Linked DNA regions of Homo sapiens: regions 2, 3, 4, 5 and 6 are each reported to be linked to region 1. The links are microRNA targets in miRTarBase. Many come from high-throughput screens and were not tested one by one. Region 1 holds a microRNA gene; each other region holds the end of a gene's coding sequence.

What was found. Region 1 holds the annotated microRNA hsa-miR-548u (CAAAGACUGCAAUUACUUUUGCG, at 2,043-2,065, opposite strand). A microRNA usually pairs through its seed, bases 2 to 8, with sites in the 3' UTR of a target mRNA and lowers its output. Matches are read on the target gene's strand: a 7mer-m8 pairs with bases 2 to 8, a 7mer-A1 pairs with bases 2 to 7 and ends in A, and an 8mer does both.
Region 2: miRTarBase lists CNNM3 as a target of hsa-miR-548u. Seed matches in the 3' UTR shown: 7mer-m8 at 1,475-1,481.
Region 3: the mRNA of XXYLT1 is a reported target of hsa-miR-548u. The part of its 3' UTR that is shown has no 7-base or 8-base seed match.
Region 4: the mRNA of CLDN1 is a reported target of hsa-miR-548u. Seed matches in the 3' UTR shown: 7mer-A1 at 2,119-2,125.
Region 5: the mRNA of ARHGAP15 is a reported target of hsa-miR-548u. The part of its 3' UTR that is shown has no 7-base or 8-base seed match.
Region 6: miRTarBase lists FLCN as a target of hsa-miR-548u. Seed matches in the 3' UTR shown: 7mer-A1 at 1,449-1,455.

What each region holds. Positions count from the first base shown.
Region 1 is chr6:57,388,156-57,392,244 of GRCh38, reverse strand. It overlaps MIR548U (microRNA 548u), which reads right to left and starts at 2,113; the gene lies at 2,033-2,113. All of the region lies in intron 7 of PRIM2 (DNA primase subunit 2), which reads right to left.
Region 2 is chr2:96,832,111-96,836,195 of GRCh38, forward strand. CNNM3 (cyclin and CBS domain divalent metal cation transport mediator 3) reads left to right here. Exons shown (of 8, transcript NM_017623.5): 8 at 442-3,272. The coding sequence ends at 506. LOC124907859 (a long non-coding RNA gene) reads right to left here and starts at 2,279. Exons shown (of 2, transcript XR_007087143.1): 1 at 1,201-2,279; 2 at 1-529. RefSeq lists enhancers at 186-1,385, 1,048-1,667.
Region 3 is chr3:195,066,109-195,070,197 of GRCh38, reverse strand. It overlaps XXYLT1 (xyloside xylosyltransferase 1), which reads left to right. Exons shown (of 4, transcript NM_152531.5): 4 at 87-1,914. The coding sequence ends at 483. Among named protein-coding and RNA genes, the nearest start is that of XXYLT1-AS1, 26 kb to the left of the region's middle. RefSeq lists an enhancer at 667-1,866.
Region 4 is chr3:190,304,911-190,308,985 of GRCh38, forward strand. CLDN1 (claudin 1) reads right to left here. Exons shown (of 4, transcript NM_021101.5): 4 at 797-3,529. The coding sequence ends at 3,367. It also overlaps a transcript of CLDN16 not described here. Among named protein-coding and RNA genes, the nearest start is that of CLDN1, 15 kb to the right of the region's middle.
Region 5 is chr2:143,767,723-143,771,811 of GRCh38, forward strand. ARHGAP15 (Rho GTPase activating protein 15) reads left to right here. Exons shown (of 14, transcript NM_018460.4): 14 at 267-630. The coding sequence ends at 450. The region is part of intron 2 of ARHGAP15-AS1 (ARHGAP15 antisense RNA 1); the gene reads right to left. Among named protein-coding and RNA genes, the nearest start is that of ARHGAP15-AS1, 6.3 kb to the right of the region's middle.
Region 6 is chr17:17,210,248-17,214,336 of GRCh38, reverse strand. It overlaps FLCN (folliculin), which reads left to right. Exons shown (of 14, transcript NM_144997.7): 14 at 481-2,125. The coding sequence ends at 682. Among named protein-coding and RNA genes, the nearest start is that of PLD6, 6.0 kb to the right of the region's middle.

The sequences.
Region 1 (4,089 bases):
ACCTTCAGCAGTTCCAGGATACAAAATCAATGAACGAAATCGCTAGCATTCCTATACACCAACAAAAGCCAAGCTGAGAGCCAAATCAACAAGGCAATCCCATTCACAATTGCCACAAAAAGAATAAAATACCTAGGAATACAGCTAACCAGGGAGGTGAAAGATCGCAACAATAAGAATTACAAAATACTGCTCAAAGAAATCAGAGATACACAAATAAATGGAAAAACATCCCATGCTCATGGACAGGAAAAGTCAATATCATTAAAATGGTCATACTGCCCAAAGCAATTTATATAATTCAGTCCTATTCCTATCAAACTATCAATGACATTCTTCACAGAACTAAAAAATAAATAAATAAAAACTATTTTAAAGTTCATATGAAACTAAAAAAGAGTCCGAATAGCCAAGGCAATCCTAAGCAGAAAGAACAACGCTTGAGGCATCACACTACCAATTTCAAACTACAGCACAGGATACAGTAACCAAAACAGCATGGTACAGGTACAAAAACAAGCACATAGACCAATGGAACAGAACAGAGAGCCCAGCAATAAGCCCACACACCTACAACCATATGATCTTCAACAAAGCTGACAAAAACAAGCAATGGGGAAAAGAACCCCTATTCAATAAATGGTGCTGGATAACTGGCTAGCCATATGCAGAAGATTGAAGCTGGACTTTTCCTTATACCATATATAAAAATCAACTCAAAATGGATTAAAGACTTAAATGTAAAATCCAAAGCAATGAAAACCCTGGAAGACAACTTAGGCAATACCATCTGGACATAGGAATGGGCAAAAATTTCATGACAAAGACACCAAAAGCAAAAATTGGCAAATGGGATCTAACTAAACTTAACAGCTTCTGCACAGCAAAAGAAATTATCAACAGAGTACACAGACAACCTACAGAATGGAAGAAAATACTTGCAAACTATGCATCTGACAAAGGTCTAATATTCAACATCTATAAGGAATTTAAATATACAAGAGATAAACAACCCCATTAAAAAGTGGGCAAAGGACATGAACAGACACTTCTCTAAAGAGGACATACATGTGGCCAAGAAGCATATGAACAAAAGTTCAGTATCAATTGATCATTAGAGAAATGCAAATCAAAACCACAATGAGATACCATCTCATACCAGTCAGAATGGCTATTACTAAGAAGTCAAAAAATAACAGATGCTGATGAAGTTGCGAAGAGGAGGGAACACTTATACACTGTTGGAGGGAGTGTAAATTAGTTCAACCAATGTGGAAAGCAGTATACTGATTCCTCAAAGAGCTAAAAGCAGAACTATCATTCAACCTTGCAATCCCGTTACTGGGTATATACCCAGAGGAATATAAATCATTCTACCATCAAGACATATGTACACCAATGTTCATTGCAGCACCATTTACAATAGCAAAGACATGGAATCAACCTAAATGTCCTTCAGTGACAGACTAGATAAAGAAAGTGTGGTACACATACATTATGGAATACTATGTAGCCATAAAAAAGAATGAGATCATGTCTTTTGTGGGAACATGGATGGAGCCTGAGGCTACTAACTAGCAAACTAACCCAAGAATAGAAAACCTAATACCACATGTTCTCACTTAGTGAGAGCTAAATGATGAGAACTCTTGCACACACAGAAAAGAACAACAGACACTGGGGTCTACCTGAGGGTGGAGGTTGGGAGGAAGGAGAGGAGCAGAAAAGGTAACTATTGGGTACTGAGTTTAATACCTGGGTGATGAAATAATCTGTACAACAAGCCCCCATGACATGAGTTTACCTATGTAACAAACCTTCGCATGTACCCCCAAACCTAAAAGTTAAAAAAAAAGAAATATGTGTTGAATAGACAACAGATTGTAAACTGCATCTTAGAAAAAGGTTAACAAACCAGTATCTCACAAATAGAACAACAATCAAGTTCAGCTGAGCATCCTCAGTCAACAAACCTGTCAAACTAGAAAGAGCATATGCTTATTTTCCCCCGAAAAATGATTTTTTTTCTGTTATTAGGTTGGCGCAAAAGTAATTGCAGTCTTTGCCATTAAAAGTAAAGAAAAAAACCACATTACTTTTGCACCATCCTAATAGTCTCATGGCTTTCAACTGCAACGTTTTGTTTCCCACAGATCAGCAGCAAGGGAGACCAAATGAACTGGTGCCTGACAGTAATGGTGGAAGTGAAAGCATGTTATGCTTGCATATCGTGATATGCTACTTGCATATTGATGGATTTGCTGCAGCACTGACAAGTTCACAGTGACCCACTTTAAAATGGCATTAAATGATCAGTATATTTAAAAAGACATGTTAACCAGAACCCAAGAAATCAGCTAGTTGTACACAAATAGTAAGAAAACTCCTATATGATTCCCAACTAAGTAACCATTCAAGAAAATTAATTATATTTAATCACAGTTTAAGGAAGAAAATTGAACACTACTTTTAAAAAGAGGATACAAGATTTAAGAGGATTCCAAACTCTTTAGAAATAAAAATTACCTGATCAAGTGCCTACAAAGCATATTTTTCCAAACGAACAAATAATTAGTGAGCCACAGACCCAACTGGTACTTTCTAAATGTGAAAAAGGAAATCCTTTTCAAAAAAGAAAATCCTTGCTTTTCTCTGTGACTCCAAGTAAGAGCCACTTACCTGCCTTTCAATTATCTTCCTGGGAACTTCTCAGTCCTTTTTTCTGTATCTAAATAAGATGTGTATAAATACATTTTTTGGAAGTCTGGTTTCTTTAACGTTTTACCAGTACCTTCTAAAGATGAGTCTCACAAATAGAAAGTGAAATTAAGGCCAGGCATGGTGACTCATGCCTGTAATTCCAGAACTTTAGGAGGCTCAGGTAGAAGGATCACTTGAACACAGGAGTTCTAGACCAACCCAGGCAACATAGGGATATCCCCAACTCTACATAAACTTTTATTAATAAAAACTTAGCCAGGCACTGTTGGCACAGGCCTGTGGCTCCAGCTACTTAGGAGGCTAAGGCAGGCGGACTGCTTGAGCCTGGGAGGTCAAGGCCATGGTGAGTTGTAATTGCACCACTGCACTCCAGCCTGGGTGACAGAGTAGAGACCCTGTCTAAAAATAAAAAATAAAAATAAAAATAAATAGTCACACTGTGTGAGGAGAAAGAGATTTTTGCCTTAAAGAAATCCAGCTCCAATTTAAGGATCTGCCCCATTTTCTAACAACAAATGAAGTATGTTCTCTGCTTAATGAAATCAAGTGGAAGTGTATGGAAACCAAGCTCAGCTGTGGGCCCCCTCTCTTCTCCACTGACATCCCACACTCTTCCTGGAGTCTCATGGCTGCACATTCTCCTCCCCAAAAATTTAGACACTCAAATCCAACTTCAAACTTGCCATCTCCATTTGTGTAACCAATAAGCACCTTCTACTTAACGTGGTCAGAATAGAACTCTTTATTTTATTTTACATATTTTTCTCGGAGTCTTCTACATCTTGGCAAAGGCATCACCCCCTAATAAATTATTCAAGCCAAAATTCTAGGCAGTGTAATATAATGGTCAAGAACATAGACCTTGATGCCAGACTGTATGGATTCAAATCCTGCTTCTGCTCCTCACTACCTGTATAAAGATACTACAAGCCTCAGAGAGTGATAATGGTACCTGCCTTATAGGGTTACCATAAAGACTAAATGCATTAATTCATATAAAGCATTTAGAATAGCACTTGGCAAATATTAAATTTTCACTATGCTTAAGCTCTCATCATCATCATCATTATGCTGATTCTTCTCTTTCTCTCACAACCAATCCACCATGTCAATATTACTTTAAAAACTAACTGAAATCCACTGACTTCTGTCAGTCATATCACCACAACCAATCCATTTCAAGCCACTATCTAGATTAATGTGAAAACTTCCAGACTAGTCCTCCCGCTTCCATTCCTTTTTTATCCTCCAAAATGGCTTTCAAGCAGCAGCCACAGTCATCTATTTAAAACATAAATCAGATCATATCACTCACTTATTCAAAATCATCCAATGTCTTTCAACTACATTAGGCTAAAAAAAAATCAA
Region 2 (4,085 bases), not on the chromosome of region 1:
GGCCCTTCAGCTGAGGGAGGAGCAGAGCCCATGGCTCCCCAGGCTGGGGGGCATTTTTCTCCAGGGGTGTGGGGTGGGCGCTCCCTTCCATCCTTCTGGAAGACAGGAGGGGTCATGAGACTCCTCCACTGTGGAAAATGGTGCTTCCTTCCAGCACAGGGTGCTGTATCGTCCCGGGAAGGTGCCTCTTGTTCAGCATAATGACCTGGGACCCTCGGGGCCAGAAATCCACAGCCCCAGCTTCCCCGTCTCCCAGGGAAGGCATCTGTTGGCTGACCATCTGCTAACCAGTCGCTCCTGTTTCTGCTCTGATACTTCCCAAGGCATCCCGAAGCACCTGTCTTAGCTGCCCCTTCCTGTCCCACAGAGGATTTGGCACTTGGTTTTGACAGGATACTTTACCAGCTTTGATGTTAATTCTCCTTCCCTTGTCTCCTGTAGGGTCCAGCCACAGCAGGCCCGGCGTCCCGGTGGAAGGCAGCCCTGGGCGGAACCCAGGCGTTTAACGGCTCACTAGGCAGCCCCAGATCTGGGGAACAGATGAGCACGTGGGGAGCTGGAGTGAGCTGAGCAGAAGTTTTGTGCCCGCCTGCCCCCATCCCCTCCAGGCCACGTTTTAGATGGCCCTTGTAGTTGCGGGTCCTGGGTGTCCTCAGAACTAGACATCAATGCCTGGATCCTTCAGCCGGCCCTGCCCTCCTTTAGGAGACAGGAGTCACCAGGGCACAGCCCTCCAGGCCCGCCTCAGGAAGGAATGAAAGGAATGCCATCATCTCTAGTTCCCAGGGCCCAGCCTTCCCCTTCTCCCCCGGGGCAGGGACAGTGCGGCATATTCAGATTCAGACCTCTTTGGGCTGAGCCACCTTGTGAGTGCAGTTACTGCCTTTGTGTGGCCGTGACCTCTATTTGTTTGCTTTTAATTTGCCAACCTATCGCTGCTGGCAGCACTTTTTGAGCAAGCCGAGAGCACCCATTTTGGCTGGGGGTTCAGATCGATGGCCTTGTCCATGTTGTCCTTTCTGGCTTCCCTGATGGTGTCATGTTTCAGCGCATGCGCCCCAGCCTTTCCCATGTGCCAAACCAGAAGCTCCACTGCCCGTAGGCTGTCCCTGTAGCCCTGCTCCCTCCCTGGAGGCTGCTCTTCTGATTCTGAGAGCTGGCCTAGTGGTGCTGAGGGCCCCTTTCTGCTTCTCTGCCCACCTGCTGAGTTGCCACTCGCAGTGTTGTCAGTTCCCGTGTTCTGAGAAGAGGTCATGCCTGGGAGGAAGGGATCGTCATGCTGCATCGAATCCTCTCTCCGCCGTGTGGCCCCCAGGAGAGTAGCTGCCTGTTGCACCTGCTCCACACCTCCCCACAGCCTCCCTGCAGGTGCTGTGTGGCCGTGATGTGCAGAGAGCAGTGAGGGAGGGTTCATGAACCAGGTGGATCCTCTTTAAAAAAAAAAAAGTTTTTGTTATATCTCTAGAACATTTCAAGTCTTTTCCTTTTTTTCTGTTCCTAGCTATGGGGTTTTAGAGAAGTGGGAACAGGAAGGCATTTGTCTTTTTCTTCTAGTTTACTACATTTTCCTTCCGTAGTTCTTCAGCTGTGTGGAAACGGGCATCACAAGGACATAGGATCATAGATTGGGTAGGGAGGGAGGAGGATTTCTGGAACTTTTCTCAAAGGAATTTGGACCCTTATAAATGGGACTGAAGGTCAAAACAACAGTGATATCCTTGCTTAGAAATTGTCCTCAAGGAATAAACTCTGAGAGCAAGCCCGGGTTGGAAACAGATGCTTTAAAATCCTCTCTCCAGAACAGTGGTTTTTTGTTTGTTTATTTGAGATGGAGTCTCACTCTGTCACCCAGGCTGGAGTGCAGTGGTGAGATCTTGGCTCACTGCAACCTCCACCTCCCAGGTTCAAGCCATTCTCCTGTCTCAGCCCCCTGAGTAGCTGGGATTACAGGTGCCCACCACCACACCCGGCTAATTTTTGTATTTTTAGTAGAGATGGGGTTTCACCATGTTGGCCAGGCTGATCTTGAACTCCTGACCTCAGGTGATCTGCCTGCCTTGGCCTCCCAAAGTGCTGGGATTATAGGTGTGAGCTAAGATCAGGGATTCTTAACCTTGGCTGCACACCAGAATCACCTGGCAAATTAAAAATACGTGGACCTGCCACCAGAGCTTGTGATTTAATCAGAGTCGGCATCAGAGTTTTCAATTTTTTATTTATTTATTATTATTATTATTATTATTATTATTATTGAGACAAGATCTTGCTCTGTCGCCCAGACTGGAGTGCAGTGGTGTGATCACGGCTTGCTGCAGCCTCGACCTCCCTGGTTCAGGCCATCCTGCCACCTCAGCCTCCTGAGTAGTAGGGACTACAGGTAGGCACCACCACACCCAGCTAATACTTTTAATTTTTTTTTGTAGAGATAGGGTCTCATTATGTTGCCTGGGGTAGTCTCGAACTCCTAGGCTCAAGCGATCCTCCTGCCTCGGCCTCCCAAAGTGTTGAGATTATAGGCGTGAGCCACCGTGCCCAGATTCACAGAAGTTTCATACACCTTTCACCCAGGTTCCCCTAATGTTAACAGCTTACATATAACCTTGGTACATTTATCAAAACTAAAGGTGCAATCATACTAATAGCTAGAGTTTATTTGGATTTTACCATTTTTCCCAATGTCCCTTTTCTGCTGCAGCAGCCAATCCAGGATGCCATACTGCACTTAGAGCTGTTGCTTTCTTTTTTCCTAACTTTATATTTTGAAATAATTTCAGATGATAGGAAGTTGTAAAGGTAAGGGCCCCACGCACCCTTCATCTAGTTTCCCTCCATGGTTACATCTTATATGGTTGTAATGCAGTATTCCAACAAAGACTCTGACACTGGTGCGATGTGGGTGGACAGTCCAAATCATTTGTCACATGTACATCTGTGTAACTACCACTGCAATCAGGATAAAGAAGTCCCATCCCCACAAGGATCTCCCTCCCCACCTTCCCTAACTCCTGGTAACCACTAATCGTTCATCTCTTCTTATTTTGTCATTTCAAGAATGTTGTATAAATGGGAGCATAGTGTGTAAGCATTCGGGATTGTCTTTTTTCACTCGGCGTCATTCTCGGGAGATCATCCAGGCATTGCATGTGTCAACAGTTTGCTCCTTTTTATTGCTGAGTGGTATTCCGTGGTGTATGCATTGGCCCCCTGAAGGACACCTGGGATGTTTCCAGTTTGGGGCTATTCCAAATAAAGCTGCTACGACTATTCATGTACAGGTTTCTGTGTCAGGATTAGTTTTCGAGGAGTGTAAATGCTTGGTCATAGGGTTGTTGCATGTTTCGTTTTTTAAACAATCAAACTTTTTTTTTTTTTTTTTGAGACGGAGTCTCACTCTTTTGCCCAGGCTGGAGTGCAGTGGCGCAGTCTCGGCTCACTGCAAGCTCTGCCTCCCGGGTTCATGCCATTCTCCTGCCTCAGCCTCCCCATAGCTGGGACTACAGGCGCCCGCCACCACGCCCGGCTAGTTTTTTGTATTTTTAGTAGAGACGGGGTTTCACCATGTTAGCCAGGATGGTCTCGATCTCCTGACTTCGTGATCTGCCCGCCTCAGCCTCCCAAAGTTCTGGGATTACAGGCGTGAGCCACCGCACCTGGCCACAAACTGTCAAACTCATGTCCTCACCGGCAACCTAGGATGATCAGTTTCCCTGAATCCTCCACAGCACTTAGTGGTGTCCACATGTTTTTACTTCAGCCGTTCTGACAGGTGTGTCGTGATGCCTCACGGTGGTTTTTCATTTGCATTTCCCAGTGGTGGACACCTGTGTTTCGCTTCAGTGGAATATTCCTGTCTTTCACCCATTTTCTGATTGGATTGTTTCTTCTGTTGAGTTTTGAGAGTTCTTTGAGATTCCTTTATGGGATTTTTGGTTTCCATTGGTCTGTAGCTTATCTTTTTCACCCCTCCCCCTCCCCCCCTTTTTTTTTTCCTGAGACAGAGTCTCACTTTGTCACCCATGGTGGAGTGCAGTGGCACAATCTTGGCTCACTGTATACTTGACTTCTGGACTCAAGCAGTTCTCCCT
Region 3 (4,089 bases), not on the chromosome of region 1:
GCAGGCTGGCTGTGAAGACCCAGGGCAGCAGGCCGGCAGGCTGGTTCCCCTGCACACCGGACTAACTCTGTCCTCTCTCTCCACAGGCACACATTCTGGCAGTTCCGCCATGAGAACCCCCAGACCCGGGTTGGGGGCCCGCCCCCCGAGGGGCTGCCGGGCTTCAACAGCGGGGTGATGTTGCTGAACCTGGAGGCCATGCGCCAGTCCCCGCTCTACAGCCGCCTGCTGGAGCCGGCGCAGGTGCAGCAGCTGGCCGACAAGTACCACTTCCGCGGCCACCTCGGGGACCAGGACTTCTTCACCATGATCGGCATGGAGCACCCCAAGCTCTTCCATGTGCTGGACTGTACCTGGAACCGGCAGCTGTGCACCTGGTGGAGGGACCATGGCTACAGTGACGTCTTCGAGGCCTATTTCAGGTGTGAGGGCCACGTCAAGATCTACCACGGGAACTGCAACACTCCCATCCCGGAGGACTAGGCGCTCCCCGTGCCTTGCCCCCGGGGCCTCCAGATCTGGGGGAAGGACAGGGTTCCTTGGGACAGACCCAAGGGCAGTGTCTGACCCGCTAGAGAGACACCGCAGGGAAGTCCTGTGATTAAGGTGCTGAGACCTCCTGCCGGGCAGGTCACTGTGCTGAGGCCACCCGCCAAGGACTGGCCTGTGCACTGCTGGTGCTTGGGACCTTATTCCTCCAGGGAGCAGGCGACACAAAGGACACGCATGTCCAGTGGGCTGGGAAGCAAGCACTTGAAGAGAAGGAAGGGGAGAAAGGGTCCCCCTTGCTGTCTGCCTCTGAGGAATGGAAATCCTTTAGACCCGGCCTTTTTTGGACCAATATAAATTTAATTTAAATTGACAGCCTTCCATTTTTCGAGAAAGTACAAACAGAACTGCTTTAGCACCCATCGAGCCCCAAACGGGTAAGGTAAGCCAAGGTTTTAATGACCAGCCCAGTATCTAAGCTTCCAAACGAATGCCAGCCCATCACATACTCACCCTGGGAGGCTGCTGCACGCGCATTCTCCTGATGCTCACGTCACTTGGTGTAGGTTTCAGGATCGCCTCTTTGAGGAAGGACTTCAGGACCAACTGGGGCCTGCATAAGAAAACTTATCTCATTATTAGAGTACTCACAGCTTGTATCTCCCAGCTACATCCTAGAACCCCATTGTCCTTTATTCCACCAAACCAGCTCCAGGTGACCAGACTCTACTCAGAAAGCAAATTCGTCATCAAAGAACAGAGACTGGCCACCACAAGGACATGCAGGAGAACTGTCGGGACCAGGAAGACTCATTCCAAAAAGCCCAGGCCGGGCACAGTCGTCAAGCCTGTAATCCCAACACTTTGGGAGACCGAGGTGGGGGTATCGATTGAGCCTCGGAGGTCGAGATCAGCCTGGGAAACACAGGGAGGCCCCCATCGCTACAAAATATTTTAAAAATTAGCCAGGTGTGGTGGCTTGTGCTTGTTGTCCCGGCTACTTGGGAGGCTGAAGTGGGAGGGTGGCTTGAGTCCAGGAGTTCACTGCACTGAGCTGTGATCACACCACTGCACTCCAGCCTGGACGACAGAGTGAGACGTCCATCTCAAAAAAAAAAAAAAAACCAAAAAGGAACCCAGCAATTCCCAAGTGTGACCATGTGGGCTTGGAAGACATGTCACTCATGGGCTAGTAAGCATTCTAGTTTCTTTGTTTAAAAAATCCCCTTATCATACCACGTTAGACCGTAGACCTTAGCAGAAATTAAAGCGTCATTTCTTTTGATGGGGCCTCCTGTACGTAGGCTGCAGACGTGAAAGCCCCAGGGGTCCATTTGTATCAATTTTCATCTTGTTTTGTTTTGATTTCATTTACGTTTTTCTTTTTCCCATGAGTGAGGATAGCCAATAAATCATCTTTGAGAACATGGTGATTCATGTTGTTTGTTCTCTGATCACAGTTTCAGCTGCATGAAGGCTCTGAATCAAGTGTGTACTCAATGCCATTGGAATCCCCACCTCCCCTGATGAAGATGAGTGCTTACAGGAGATCCTAAGGACCAAGGAGAGGGCACATCTGAGAGGGTGTCAGAGAGGGTAGTATTGGCATGTTTGGTTCAAAGCAAGGAATCATTTCATTCTAGGTATTGGCAGGTCCACCTGCACTGGGGAGCAAAAGCATCCCCATTTCTTCTCATCCCTCTTACCCTAGACTGCCCAGTTACATCCTGCCCTGAAGAGGTGGAGCAGATATCTTTCCCAGCCCTCTGCTGTGACAGAATTGGTCTGTTCTCTCACCTACTTGATTTCCTATTTATAGGTAACAATTCTTGAATGCCTGCTGTGCACCAGCCATTGTATTGGGGGATTTATTACGCTATTGATAATGTTTATGAAAACTTCATGAAGGTCATTATGTCTAAAGTCGACTGTAAGAAAATGTGAGAGATGTGGACAGAGTCATATACTATATGTTTATCACATTTTTTATAGTAGAAGAAAATTGGAAGCAACTTAAAATGTGAAAAAGAGGGGCCAGGCGCGGTGGCTCACACATGTAATCCCAGCACTTTCAGAGGCTGAGGCCGGCAGATCTCTTGAGCCCAGGAGTTCAAGACCAGCCTGGGCAACATGGCAAGGCCCAGTGTCTACAACTATACAAAAATTAGCTGGGCATGGTGGTGCACGCCCAGCTATTCAGGAGGCTGAGCTGGGAGGATCACTCAAACCCAGGAGGCAGAGGCTGCAGTGAGCTGAGATCACGACACTACACTCCAGCCTGGGGGACCGGGCAAGACTCTGTCTGTCTTTAAAAAAAAAAAAAAAAAAAAAAAAAAAAGAATGGAATAGGTAGATGAATAATATGCTTCATCCATATAACAGAATACTTGAGGCATTATTCGAAGAATATGTAATGCCTCAGGAAATACTTAGAATGTGCTATTAAATAAAGAATGCAAAATGTAAGATCATATGTTTAATACGATCCTATTTTTAAAATTACATATATGTGTATGTATATCAGTGTACACACGTGTGTATAGATACATACCTACACACACACGTATGTATAAAAAGAGCATCTATTCTGCTGTATTTCAACTTCTAAAAACATAGGTGTTTCAAACACCACATTAAAAAAACAATTATTTCAACGGGAAAAAAGTGAGTTAAAGGCTAAAGAATTTTAGACTCACAATAATAAAGGTATTTTCCCTGCAATCCTTTCTATAATTAAAATGTGTCTATAGCTATGTGTGTATTTTGTTGTTGCAAGAAAAAAACAATAAGCTGGTTGGTCAAAATGGGCAAAGGCCAAACAACATCCCTCATTTACTTTTAAGTAAACCTCTCAGGAGCTTCCCCTCTGTCACCAGTGGCCTCGACCTTCCAACCCCCCAGTGCACAGCAGACTGTCACTGCACAGGCACCCCAGCCCACCCACAGATCACACCCCAGCCCGCTGACAGATCACACCCCAGCCCGCTGACAGGTCCCACCGCAGCCCACCAACAGATCCCACCCCGGCCCGCGGACAGATCACACCCCAGCCCGACAGATCACACTGCAGCCCACCAACAGATCACACCCTGGCCCATAGACAGATCACACCCCAGCCTGCTGACAGATCACCACATAGGCACCCCAGCCCGCCGACGGATCACCACACAGGCAGCCAGCCCACCGACAGATCACTCCACAGCCTGCCGACAGATCACACCCCGGCCCACCGACAGATGACTTCACAGGCACCCCAGCCCGCCCACAGATCACCGCACAGGCACCCCAGCCCGCCCACAGATCACACCCCAGCCCCCCGACAGATCACCGCACAGGCACCCCAGCCTGCCCACAGATCACACCCCAGCCCGCCGACAGATCACACCCCAGCCTGCGGACAGATCACTGCACAGGCACCCCAGCCCGCCCACAGATCACACCCCGGCCCGCCGACAGATCACTGCACAGGCACCCCAGCCCGCCCACAGATCACACCCCAGCCCACTGACAGATCACACCCCAGCCCGTCAACAGATCACACCCAGCCCACCAACAGATCACTGCACAGGCACCCCAGCCCGCTGACAGATCACACCCCAG
Region 4 (4,075 bases), not on the chromosome of region 1:
TGAGCTCACACAGAGGTGATATCTACTTGGTATGATTCACAATCCAAGTTTTCCTTTAGTTATTTTCAGGAGCACCAAGATACTTTATTGCCTTTCAAACTTCTGCTGGCCTTGGCCTTACCTTCAGATATTTAAATTCTGTAGAAACAGAGTGAGAATTCTGATGCATCTGCTTAATTTAAGGAGAATTCAAGTCAAATTGACTGGCAATGATCTTTGCACCTCACCCATCATGCTAATGTCTGAGACTCCACATTAGAGCTGCAAGCCTTTACTTATAAGCCTGGTCTCAATATGAACATTGTCCAGGAACAGGCCACACTTAAGGTTGTGTCAGTTATTGATACTTTAAGATAATGAGTGAATGAGTTCCATCACATCCTTATGGAGTAGTTTTGATCATCATCATTACAGAAACAATAATGGGTTTCCAGCAGCTGTCTTTCACTCTTCCACCTTTGTGAGGAACAAAGCCACTTAAGTTTGCACAGTGCTTTATAGTTCACAAAATATCTTCATATCTTATCATTTATTATTGTATGTCCCCTTTTTATAGATGAGAAAAAGTATTAAGTAACATCTCCTGGCATCCTCTTCTATTACCACCCTTGATGAGGAACTCAATTTGAGAGAAATAGGGCATTCTAGTGGGTGGAGCCACTCAAATTTGATAGATGGGCCAGAGGCATCATAGTTCTTTCCCAGGATCATGGTGAGTCAGATCCTGTCCCAAGCCACCTCCTCTACCAAGAATGGCAATCTTGCAATAAATGATTAGAAAACAAGCCAATAATCCTTTTTTTAAATTAAAAAACAATTTATTGAAAAAGAGTAATGCTTTATACAAATTCCTATTATAAAACCCCAAAATGTCTATTGGTCTGTTTCCAGGTGTGGTAGAAGAATATAAAAAGATCAAAATTGGATAAATTCTATTGTAACAATTTCGTTGGTCATTTTGGGCCATAAAATTTTTTTGTAATGTTTGGTAACTGATATCCACATGGAATTACACTCACACATCATGAAGATCTATGTATGTGGCAAAAGCCATTTAAATTTTAACTTCCAAAAGCATATATTCTCAGGTTTGGAAGGCACACTAAAATTTATTAGGTCCAATTCCTCATAAGACACAGTGGCTGACTTTCCTTGTGTAGTTTATTATGAAGTACCATTTCCAAACTAACTATCCTAGCAGCGTCAGCTGCCAGCTAACAGCAAGAGCTCTGAGGGCATCACTGAACAGATAGCACCTTATGAGTTATTATGATTCAAAAATCTCCCTTGCTGTTGGATTTACCAACACGTAGGCTTTTATTTCTTCCCATTACATCTGTTTAGCCACAGAAAGCATCGGGCCATACTCACTGCAGAAGATAAGACTTCCTCAGAATCTTATTTGTTTAGTGCACTCAATTTTACTTCACTGTCTCATCACTTGAGAGACTGGTTAAGGCAAGAAACCCATTTCTTAACATTTTTTTTGTTTTCAAACATTTGAAAAGCAACACCAAAACGTATGCAGTTAATTCCTCAATTCTTTCCCTTAGTATAGCACTTTTTAAATTACAAAACCACACTTACATGTATTCTATCTCACTGGATCCCCACAACATCACTGTGAGGTGGGAAGATCAGGAATTACAAACCACCGCTTACAGATGAAGCAATAAGCTTACAGCAGCCAAATGCCTTGCTCAAACACAGACGGTGATTGATAGCACCAAGACTCAAATCCAGGTCTCCAGACACCAATGCCAACACCCTTTCCATTACATCATCTTGCTCAAGTGAAATAGCATTCTGTACAGACTGGAAAAGTAAGAGCAGTTGTTAAAATGGAACAGAGCACAAACATGTCAGACACAGCTGAAAGAATGGAAATAGACTGGTAGAGAGAGGAAGGCACTGAGCCACATGAAGGTATGTGCGTAGGTTTTGTTCAGTGGAAATAGACTGGTAGAGAGAGGAAGGCACTGAACCACATGAAGGTATGTGTGTAGGTTTTGTTCAGTGGAAATAGACTGGTAGAGAGAGGAAGGCAGTGAATCACATGAAGGTACGTGTGTAGGTTTTGTTCAGTGACTTCTTCAGTGTCTCAGCCAGCTGAGCAAATAAAGACACTACATAGGCATAGTTCATGTTCAAAGAATGAGAGTAATATAAACTAATTAATATTCACACTACCTCTTCTAACTGGTTAAGTATCATTATCTCAATTTGGCAGATAGAAAAAAGAGGTAGAAAGATTAAGTGACTTGCTTACAGCTACAGAGAGAATATTTGTCACCAGATTATCACTCCAGAAAGTCTAGCACTTTGTTCAGACAAACAGACCACACCTTATTAGGAAGATATAAAACGCATGATAATTACACTTGGGAAAACAATACAATTAAGGAATGGGGAACAAAAAGGTAGTTTAGGGGGATATAAAACTATGAATAAGTAGCTTAAAAATTCAATCAATAAAGTTGTGTTACAACACCTGGGGGAACAGCATGCAGCTACTCAATTGGACAAATATTTTCAAAGCAAACAAGAGTGCTATGGGTCAGAGTACAGGGATTGTGTGGGAAGGTCAACAGGAATTTATCACTTTGGTCATGCAGAAAGATTTGCCTCCAAAGTTCTGATTTGTAATAAATTCTTCTTGGCTTTAGAAACTAAAATGTAGGCTATGAAATGTGTTAGATTCAGGAGATAGAGACCAATGAAACACAAAACAAATAAGGGCTTAATAACGATGCAAGTGCTATAAGATTATGGTAAAAAATAAAATAAGTATATGAAAAGGGCACGCATGAAGAATTGAAAGAATTCATCCTTGGTAAATTAGGCTAGGTCTTGTGGCAAAGGCACCCAAAGCTAATGAAGAAGAGTAAATGATATTTGACTGTTACATATGTATATATAGACGAAAAAGAAAATATACCAATAAACATCTTCATCAATATGGAATTAAATACATTTACCTATTTTAGAGATATTTTAAGTATGCTAGTATCAACATAATGAGAATAGTATTTTACTGTCTATTTTTAATAGAAAAACATGTATATATACATATCTATATATATTTAAGGAGCACCCCTTCCCCCAGTTGAGTATGATTACTCAATGGGAAGCAGTAATACAAATGGAAAAATCTTCCCTCCTATATTGAGGAAAGAAGATAAAATAAGATTAAGCCATGTTTAGCACTGAGTATTTTAACACATGGGTTTTTTGTTTGTTTGTTTGTTTTGTAATACCATACTTCAGATTACAATACCCAAAATTCTAAGGTCCTAATGTTAATGATAGTATCTCAATGTCCATTTTCGGTTTGTTTCAACATGATTTTCTCCTTTTGCCTCTGTGTCACACGTAGTCTTTCCCGCTGGAAGGTGCAGGTTTTGGATAGGGCCTTGGTGTTGGGTAAGAGGTTGTTTTTCGGGGACAGGAACAGCAAAGTAGGGCACCTCCCAGAAGGCAGAGAGAAGCAGCAGCCCAGCCAGTGAAGAGAGCCTGACCAAATTCGTACCTAAAAGGAAAAACCCATGTGCTTGTTAATCAGTGAATTATTGGCAACTTTTCTAATATAATAAAAGGAAAAAAAATCAATACTCATTGTATTTTTTTCATTGAAAATAACCCCTGAATATCCCTTGGGAAGTACTTTAAGATTTCTGAACATACACGCCAAAGAATGTTTATATTGCAATTGGTGACAATTTGCAATAGTAGATCAGGAAATAACACATGTAATACCAGGTTAATTACACAAATAATTCCAAGGACTTTTCCATATATAGGATACTTGTAAAGCATGTTTATATGTTTTAGAAGTAGGGTTTGGATCATGGTTCCTAGGCTGAAACTTAGCAAAGGAAGCTTTATCACTAAGTAGTAATCATATTCTATAAAGAAACTGATAGAGCATAATGGAGATAATCAGAGCTTTGAACAGATGATCCATTGGTCCCAGGCACCTATACAATCTGAAATCCAAATCTTATGGTTTTGTAAAGAAAAGTTCTAAGCAGCCCATGAACCATTCTGGATTAAGCTGATCCAGGCAGATGTATTA
Region 5 (4,089 bases), not on the chromosome of region 1:
AATATACTCATTCATTTCACAAATATTTGTTGAGTACCCACAATGCTCAGCTATTATGGGGGTAAAAAGTTGGACAAGGCAATGTATCCTTTCCCCAAAACTCATAGGTTCTACTTCCATACAGTAAAGTATGTAGGGTAGAAGATTAAATAATGTTATAATGCAGTTACTTTTCCTGAATGAGAAACCTTTTTTAATCACTCCAAAGTAGCCATAACTTCACTTCAAACTCCAGTGAAATTATTTTTTTTTCTCTCTCTCCACAGGATAGTGGCCAAAGCCTCCAAGAACCTCATGTCCACGCAAAGCTTGGGGATTGTATTTGGACCTACCCTTCTGCGAGCTGAAAATGAAACAGGAAACATGGCGATCCACATGGTCTACCAGAACCAGATAGCTGAGCTCATGCTGAGTGAGTACAGTAAGATCTTCGGCTCAGAGGAAGACTGACAGACAAGACAAGCTACTGAATACGTTCACATCTGTCTTGATGCCTAATATTTTTACATTTCTGTAAACATATTTCTGAAATATTTTTTGCCTTTCAAGCGACAGATGCCTCATTTTGTGAAAACTTAATGATGATTTTGTGTTTAAGTTCCAAACATTTGAATAAAATAATTGACAATATTTGCCTCTATGTGTTCTACATTAACCCCTTTGGTGCTATGCCTTCTAGCACTTCTAGGAGCACATCATGCATGCCTCATGCTATTAAATAATATGCAAAGACTAGCACATATTCAAAAAATGGCCTTAATGCTGCTCCAGGGAATTGGGTGTGTGGTTGTGTATGTGGAGATGTGAGTGAGTGTGGTTGGGAGTAGGGGTGCATGTGCACACATGTGCTTTCCCAAGATCCAGGCTGCCTTAAACATGACTCCATACTGTTACTTGGACACGGATAGAACACAAAGAGGTAGGAAGGCAGAAGCTATTAATTTGTAAATTGAACGAAGGAGATCAGGTTCACAACCAAAACATATATATTTCATCTTTCCAGAACATTTTTGTATATATAAATATAGTCCAGCTATTTTCAATGCTATACAGTGAAATTTATAAATATAACATGTTGAATGGCAATTTTTCTCAAGAAAAATGACAGTTCAAAGCATTTGCCATTGAATTTTTTATAAATACAAATGTAGTCCCATAAACACACTATCTTATAAATTAGAAGCAAAATTAGTGCCCTGCAATTTTGATCTTTATATTACACAGGAATTGCATGACTGCTCATTTTTAATGCTAACATCCATTTTGAATCTTCATCAAACTGTATATCTTCCTTTTCCCTGGCTATGTCATTTTATGTAGAATTTTTATTATACTTCTGAGGATGCTTTATTGGTGAATTACATTAAATCCATCTAGAAAGAACTTTTTTAAAGCCTTTTTTTTCATATGCCCTAAGGATTACTTGACTAGACTTAGATTGCTTTATCCATTTGATAGTTTCAGTTGTCATGGATAAACAAAAGGGTAACTGTCTAGAATATATCAAACATTGTTTTATTTTGAAAAGTATGTTCTAGTTGAACACATCTCATACTGGTTTTATGAAAGTATTCTGCTGATAAAAATGTAGACTTACGTTTGACAGCTTTTTAATCAAATTCAAACAGAATAAATAAAACTAATCCAGTGTGATAAAGAGTAAGTATAGTTATCGATTTGTTCATAAAATGAAAAATAAAACATGTAAATAAAACGGGTGAAGCACAGATCCAGAGCAAACACTTAGGGCAATAATGAGCTCCACGGCATAGGCTGTCTGTTTAGATGGGGTATTCAGGAGACGGGGAGAGTCTGCTCAAGAGATAGCCAGATGTGCAGGCAGCTCCAACATCCATGGAGCTGCCTGAGGAAGCAGAGGACTCCCTTGTCCCTTTTGAATGTCTTCATTTTAGCAATGGCGCCAGTAAGTGGGCTTGTAGCCAAGAACAGAGAAGCCACCACAATAAGTGCTGAAGTGCAGTTTCATCCAGTGGGATGTATACACATACAAAAAGCTGAAAAAAAGTCGCATGAAGCAGAACTCCATGATCTGAAGTCACCAGTAACAGTGGGCTGGCAGACTTGCTAGCTTTAAGTGATTCTTATAAGTAAAATTGTAATTATGCCTTTCAGAAAAACATGGAGACATGAAACAAGAGTTTCTGGCATTCTATTTCAAGTCGTTCTCATTTCCATGCCATTCCGTATTCTCAATTAGGTCTTTCCCAAGACTTTGATTACTTCCCTTTTTGAAGCGTTGGGGGAGAGTAGATTTAGTGGTTCTAGCATTAAAATCTTATCCCTTCACACGTATCCATCTTTAAAGTTATTCTGGAAGCATCAGCCAGAGAGAACCAGCACTGAAAGCCAAAGAGAAGTGGCACTACCTGCTTTGGGCAGGGACTCACAGCCCCTTGTCTCTGTTGCTTTCCAGATTTATAATCTTCAAAAGCACCAGCTTCTTGATTTCCAATCTGATGGGATTTAGCCTGATTCAAACCCCAGCTGTGTCCTGTCCCTGCCTGCTAAGGGCATTTAATCAGAGAATGTGTTTCCTCTCTGGGAAAAGGCCATTCCAACGTGCTGAGCCAAAGTGCCCATCACAGGATCTGACCTAACACACTAAAGGCATAAAAAGGGTTACACCAAAAAGTTATTATTAGATTCCGTAACATCTCAAATACAGTGATGACGGCCATATCAAGTCTTCCATGTTTAGAAGCTGAGATTATAAGTATACTAGGTTGACTAAAAGGTTAGATTTCATATAACTGGTCAATATTCTCCAGCAAGAAGTCATGAAACACCAGTGAGCATTTCCTTATCTCCTAGTTTGAACCAGGCAAAATTCTAGGCACTGGTGACACAAATATTAAATAAGACAAATATTTCTACCCTCTGTAGTTTCAGCCCAGTGAGGGAGACTATCCCTAACAATTAATTACAGTTCAATACAAGATCAGGTGCCTTAGCCATCTTGGTAAGCGTGTAGACCCAGGATTCGGCACCTATACTTAAAGATGCTCAAAATGTATTGTTGAATGAATGGGCAAACAGAACAGAAGCTATTCCAGACATATTAACAATGCTCAGTGGCTGACAAATACCAAAAGACTCAGTTACAGGCAGTAACTGTCCTCTGACTCTGTTACAGAGTTAGATGTGGCTTCATTGGGAAGGTAACCTTTTCTATCTAATCTTGACCAATGAACAAGATTTACCAAAGAAAAATGCAGAAAACACACCAGGAAACAGGAATGGCACGAACAGAGTCATGAAAGACCTGACATTCTCCAAAGAAAAGTGAGAAGTTCAGTGAATAAAGGGTGAAGTGCATGCCTAGCAATTTTGGAATATAAAGCTAGAGAAAGATGTTGGGATCAGATATCAGCCATGATAACATATTCAGATTTTATCCTGTAGGCAAAAGGGATCCCATAGAGGCTGTAAAGCCAGAAAGCTATAGAGAAACTTTGTTTCTTAGAGAATCTCTAAATTCACCAATGGGCAGGAAAAAAATTAATTTGAGGAGACCAGCATTTTCTCATGTATGTGTTTGTGTGTGAAATAAAATTATAATCTTATATTCTTAGGGTCAGTTCTAGTTATGATGATGAAACATTTTAAGAAATTGTAACTTAGTCTGTAGAATGGAAACACAAGTCCCTAGAAAATCAAGCTAGTTATTATGTCCCATTTCAGCACGCCTTTACCTACCCAGGATATCAGAGGTTTCCCCTCTTTCTTATTGACACAGAAAGCTGCTTGGAGATGGTATATATTTCATCTTATATGTTGACAGTCTGACTTTCTTAGCATGTGCCATATGACAGGATCACCATGCCACAACTAGTAATTGAAAGCCATATGATGGTTCTCCCTATCCAATTAGAAAACAAACGATCCAATTAAGAAAAATTTTAAAAGCTGTTAAAAGGAAGCAATCACTTGCCAATAGTGCTGTCCTTACAGTTTAACACAGCTAGAAATTGACCTGTACTTCTCTTTTCCACATTTATTTTTGTGAATTATAAGTTAATCACCCTGTCAATTCCTAATTAAAAGGCCCTGCAAAGATTTTCATCCAAA
Region 6 (4,089 bases), not on the chromosome of region 1:
GGCGTGAGCCACTGCACCTGGCCCCCCGGGTTTTTTTTTTTGTAAGCAAATTTACTTTATTTCCTCCTGCCTCGATTCTTGGTAATTTTTTGGGTCAAATTTATTAATCAAACATTGTCCTGATTTAAAATCATGCAGTGAAGCTTAGGAGCAACCAGTGTCTTCCACGAGTTTAAGGAAGGTTTTTCTTTCTTCTTGGCGTCTTGACAACAGCTTGAGGGAGGGTGTGGGAAGCGCACAGGCCCCATACCCATACCCGACAGAGGGCCGAGCCCAGCCCCGACAGCTTCCCTTCCTTGCTGGGACACAGCTCCTTTCAGCAGTTCAGGGGCCAAGCCTGCTGCCCCAAGGGTGTGGATTCCAGCTCTGCCTGCACAGCTCCTGCTGGTGCCAAAGCCGTGTCACCCCTGGTTGGCCCCGTGACCAGGGCTCGAGGGATTGTGCTGTGGTGTCTGAGTGTTTTGTTTTGGTTTTCTTCAGCAAAGTGAAGGTGCTTTTTAAGTTCACCAAGGTGGACAGTCGACCCAAAGAGGACACACAGAAGCTGCTGAGCATCCTGGGTGCGTCCGAGGAGGACAATGTCAAGCTGCTGAAGTTCTGGATGACTGGCCTGAGCAAGACCTACAAGTCACACCTCATGTCCACGGTCCGCAGCCCCACAGCCTCGGAGTCTCGGAACTGACCCGTCACACACACCTGCCTAAAGACAGGGATGGCTGTCCACAGGATCCTCCAGCCCCGTGAGAGGGACTGTCCCTTGAGTTTCTCAACTGCTGGAAGGAGCTGTGTCCCAGCAAGGAAGGGAAACCATCAGGGCTGGGCTCGGCCCTGTCAGGTTTGGGGCCTGTGTGCTTCCCAGACTCTCCCTCCAGCCGTTGGAATCGCTGAAGATGGCAATGAAAGGCGGAGGGATGATGGGCTCTCTCTGTGTTCAAACTCCTTGGAGAGACGACTAGGAGGACAGCTTGCCTCCCAGGCCCCTTGTGGACTTAGACTCAAAACCCGCAGGAGAAACAGGTCCGACTCAGTATGCAGTCGCAATAACATGTCTGCTCCCGAGGTTAACATTCAAGCGTTTCTACTTTGAAATTCAGCAAGAGTTTCTGGGCCTTATGTTTGAGGGTACCTTTTGCTGCAGTTGTGAATATTCAGTACATTGCCAGCTCTTGGTCACTGAGTGATTGAGTTAGGGCTCCGCAAGAGACTTTGGGGAGTGAAGTGGATCTCTTCCTCATCTTTTGGTCCTCTGAAATGTGTGTTCTGAAGCCATGGGGCTCGTCTTCTGGGGTGTTCCCCTGCAGGTGCTGGTGAAGGTAACCTGGGGCTTAATGATGGAGTCCCTGATCATTTTTGCACAAGACAGGTTGCTGAGGGGTCGGCAAGCATCTGACTTGCCCAATCCCCTGGATATGGTGAGCCCCGCCATGCTTTTATTCTGTATCGCTTTTGTCTTTATTGCTGCTTTCAACATTTACGTTTGGTTACAGTTAACTATTTTCGGAGTGTGGTGATTGAAGACAATTTCATCATCCCACTGTACTTTTTTTTTTGAGAGGGAGTTTCACTCTTGTTGCCCAGGCTGGAGTGCAATGGCACGATCTTGGCTCACTGCAACCTCTGCCTCCTGGGTTCAAGCAATTCTCCTGCCTCAGCCTCCAGAGTAGCTGGAACTACAGGTGCCCGCCACTATGCCCAGCTAATTTTTGTATTTTTTAGTAGAGACGGGGTTTCACCGTGTTGGCCGGGCTGGTCTCAAACTCCTGACCTCAGGTGATCCACCCACCTCAGCCTCCCAAAGTGCTGGGATTACAAGCGTGAGCCACTGTGCCTGGCCCTTTTTTTTTTTTTTTTTTTTTTTTTTAAAGAGATGGCATCTTGCTATGTCGTCCAGGCTGGTCTTGAACTCCTGAGTTCAAGCAGTCCTCCTGCTTCAACATACAGCTACAGGTACCCCCCACTATACATTTTTAATAAGGATTCATGGCTCAGAGGGATTTTCTGATGGTTTTGCTGATTTGTTTCTAGTTTTTTTGTGTTTATATTTAACATGAAGACCAAGTTTATATAACTAGGTATCTGTATAATGCAACAACATTGGAACACAATAAAGATGTATTTTTGTAAATTGTTACTACATGGTTTTATTGGTTTGATGCCTACTATTTATTTGCGCTCAGGCACAGGAAATACTATGGTTAAAAAATACCAGTGAGTCAGCCGGGCGCAGTGGCTCATGCCTGTAATCTCAGCACTTTGGGAGGCTGAGGCAGGCGGATCACGAGGTCAGGAGATCGACACCATCCTGGCTAATACGGTGAAACCCTGTCTGTACTAAAAATATAAAAAATTAGCCAGGCATGGTGACAGATGCCTGTAGTCCCAGCTACTCAGGAAGCTGAGGCAGGAGAATCACTTGAACCCGGGAGGCAGAGGTTGCAGTGAGCCAAGATCACACCACTGCACTCCAGCCTGGGCAACAGAGTGAGACTCCATCTCAAAAAACAAAACAAAATACCAGTGAGTGGCCAATTCGCACAGTTAAGCTGCTATAATGATCGTAGACAATCTTCTCCAAGTTAGTCGTTGGAGTTGGTGTTGGAGAGAAGCAAACACTCATTTATCCCAAGGACATCTGTTGAGTACCTATGCCCATGTGCTTTTCATTTTGTTCAGCATTAGAAATGGCTCATCCCTTAATAATGATGATATTTAAAAGACATGTCCATCTGAGAGGAAGATGGCTGGAATCACCCTGGGTGACCGTGGCAATCCCTAAAACAGCAGGTTCACGGTTTAGTCATCTACCTCGAGTGGGAGGGGACCCCCTGGCCAATGTGGGTCAAGGGAGAGATGACCACCCACTGTCCTCCCCGGCTTCGGGTACAGATTCCTGTCTTTCTCTCGTGCATGGCATTCCTGGGAACGTGGTTCTATGCTCAGTTTTTGCCAGTTGTCTGCCAGTCTAGTGGCTGAATCCACTTGGCAAGTAGGAGCCCAGTGTAAGTTAGCTCTGCATTCACTTCAGGGGCATGTGTGACCTGGATTTCCCATGTCTAACAGAGCTTGCTGGCGAGGGGGCAGGCAAGGCCCTATGCCGACTGGTGGTTTTGTTTTTGTTTTTGTTTTTTGAGACAGAGTCTTGCTCCGTTGCCAGGCTGTAGTGCAGTGGTGTGATCTCGGCTCACTGCAAGCTCCGACTCCCTGGTTCAAGCAATTCAGCCTCAGCCTCCCGAGTAACTGGGATTACAGGTACATGCCACCACACCCGGCTAATTTTTGTATTTTTAGTAGAGATGGGGTTTCATCATGTTGGCCAGACTGGTCTCGAACTCCTGACCTCGTGATCCGCCCGCCTCGGCCTCCTAAAGTGCTGGAATTAGAGGGGTGAGCCACCGCACCCAGCTGCCAACTGGTGTTTCTAGGCAGCTGTGGGCTTTTTCTCCCCACAGGCATGCAGTTCTTGAAGATTTTTCCTATTGGTCATGAGTGCAGAAGAGCAGGAGGCTGAGCTGAACCTATGCCAGCCCAAGACCAGGCCAGACTCTGCTGTCCTTGTGAGGGAATAGGGGTTCCTGATTTTGTAGCTTTTCACAAAATGGAAGAGACAGAAAACAAGTTCCAGATCTTGAACCTTCCCCATGTGTTTGAAGGCAGTCAAGGGTTTCCTGATTTTACATTCAAGATACTTACACTCAGGGCCGGGCATGGTGGCTCACGCCTGTAATCCCAGCACTTTGGGAGGCCGAGGCAGGAGGATCACCTGAGCCCAGGAGTTTGATACCAGCCTGGCCAACATGGTGAAACCCCGTCTCTACTAAAAATACAAAAAAAAAAATTAGCCAGGCTGGTGGTGTACGCCTGTAGTCCCAGCTACTCAGGAGGCTGAGGCAGGAGAATCACTTGAGCTCTTATATATTGTGGAAATTAACCCCTTATCTGATAATATAGTTTGTATAAGCTTTTAAAAAATAAATTGTATATATTTAAGGTATACGACATGATGTTAATGACATACACACACATATTAAAATGGTTATTATAGCCAGGCACTGTGGCTCACACCTGTAATCCCAGCACTTTGGGAGGCCA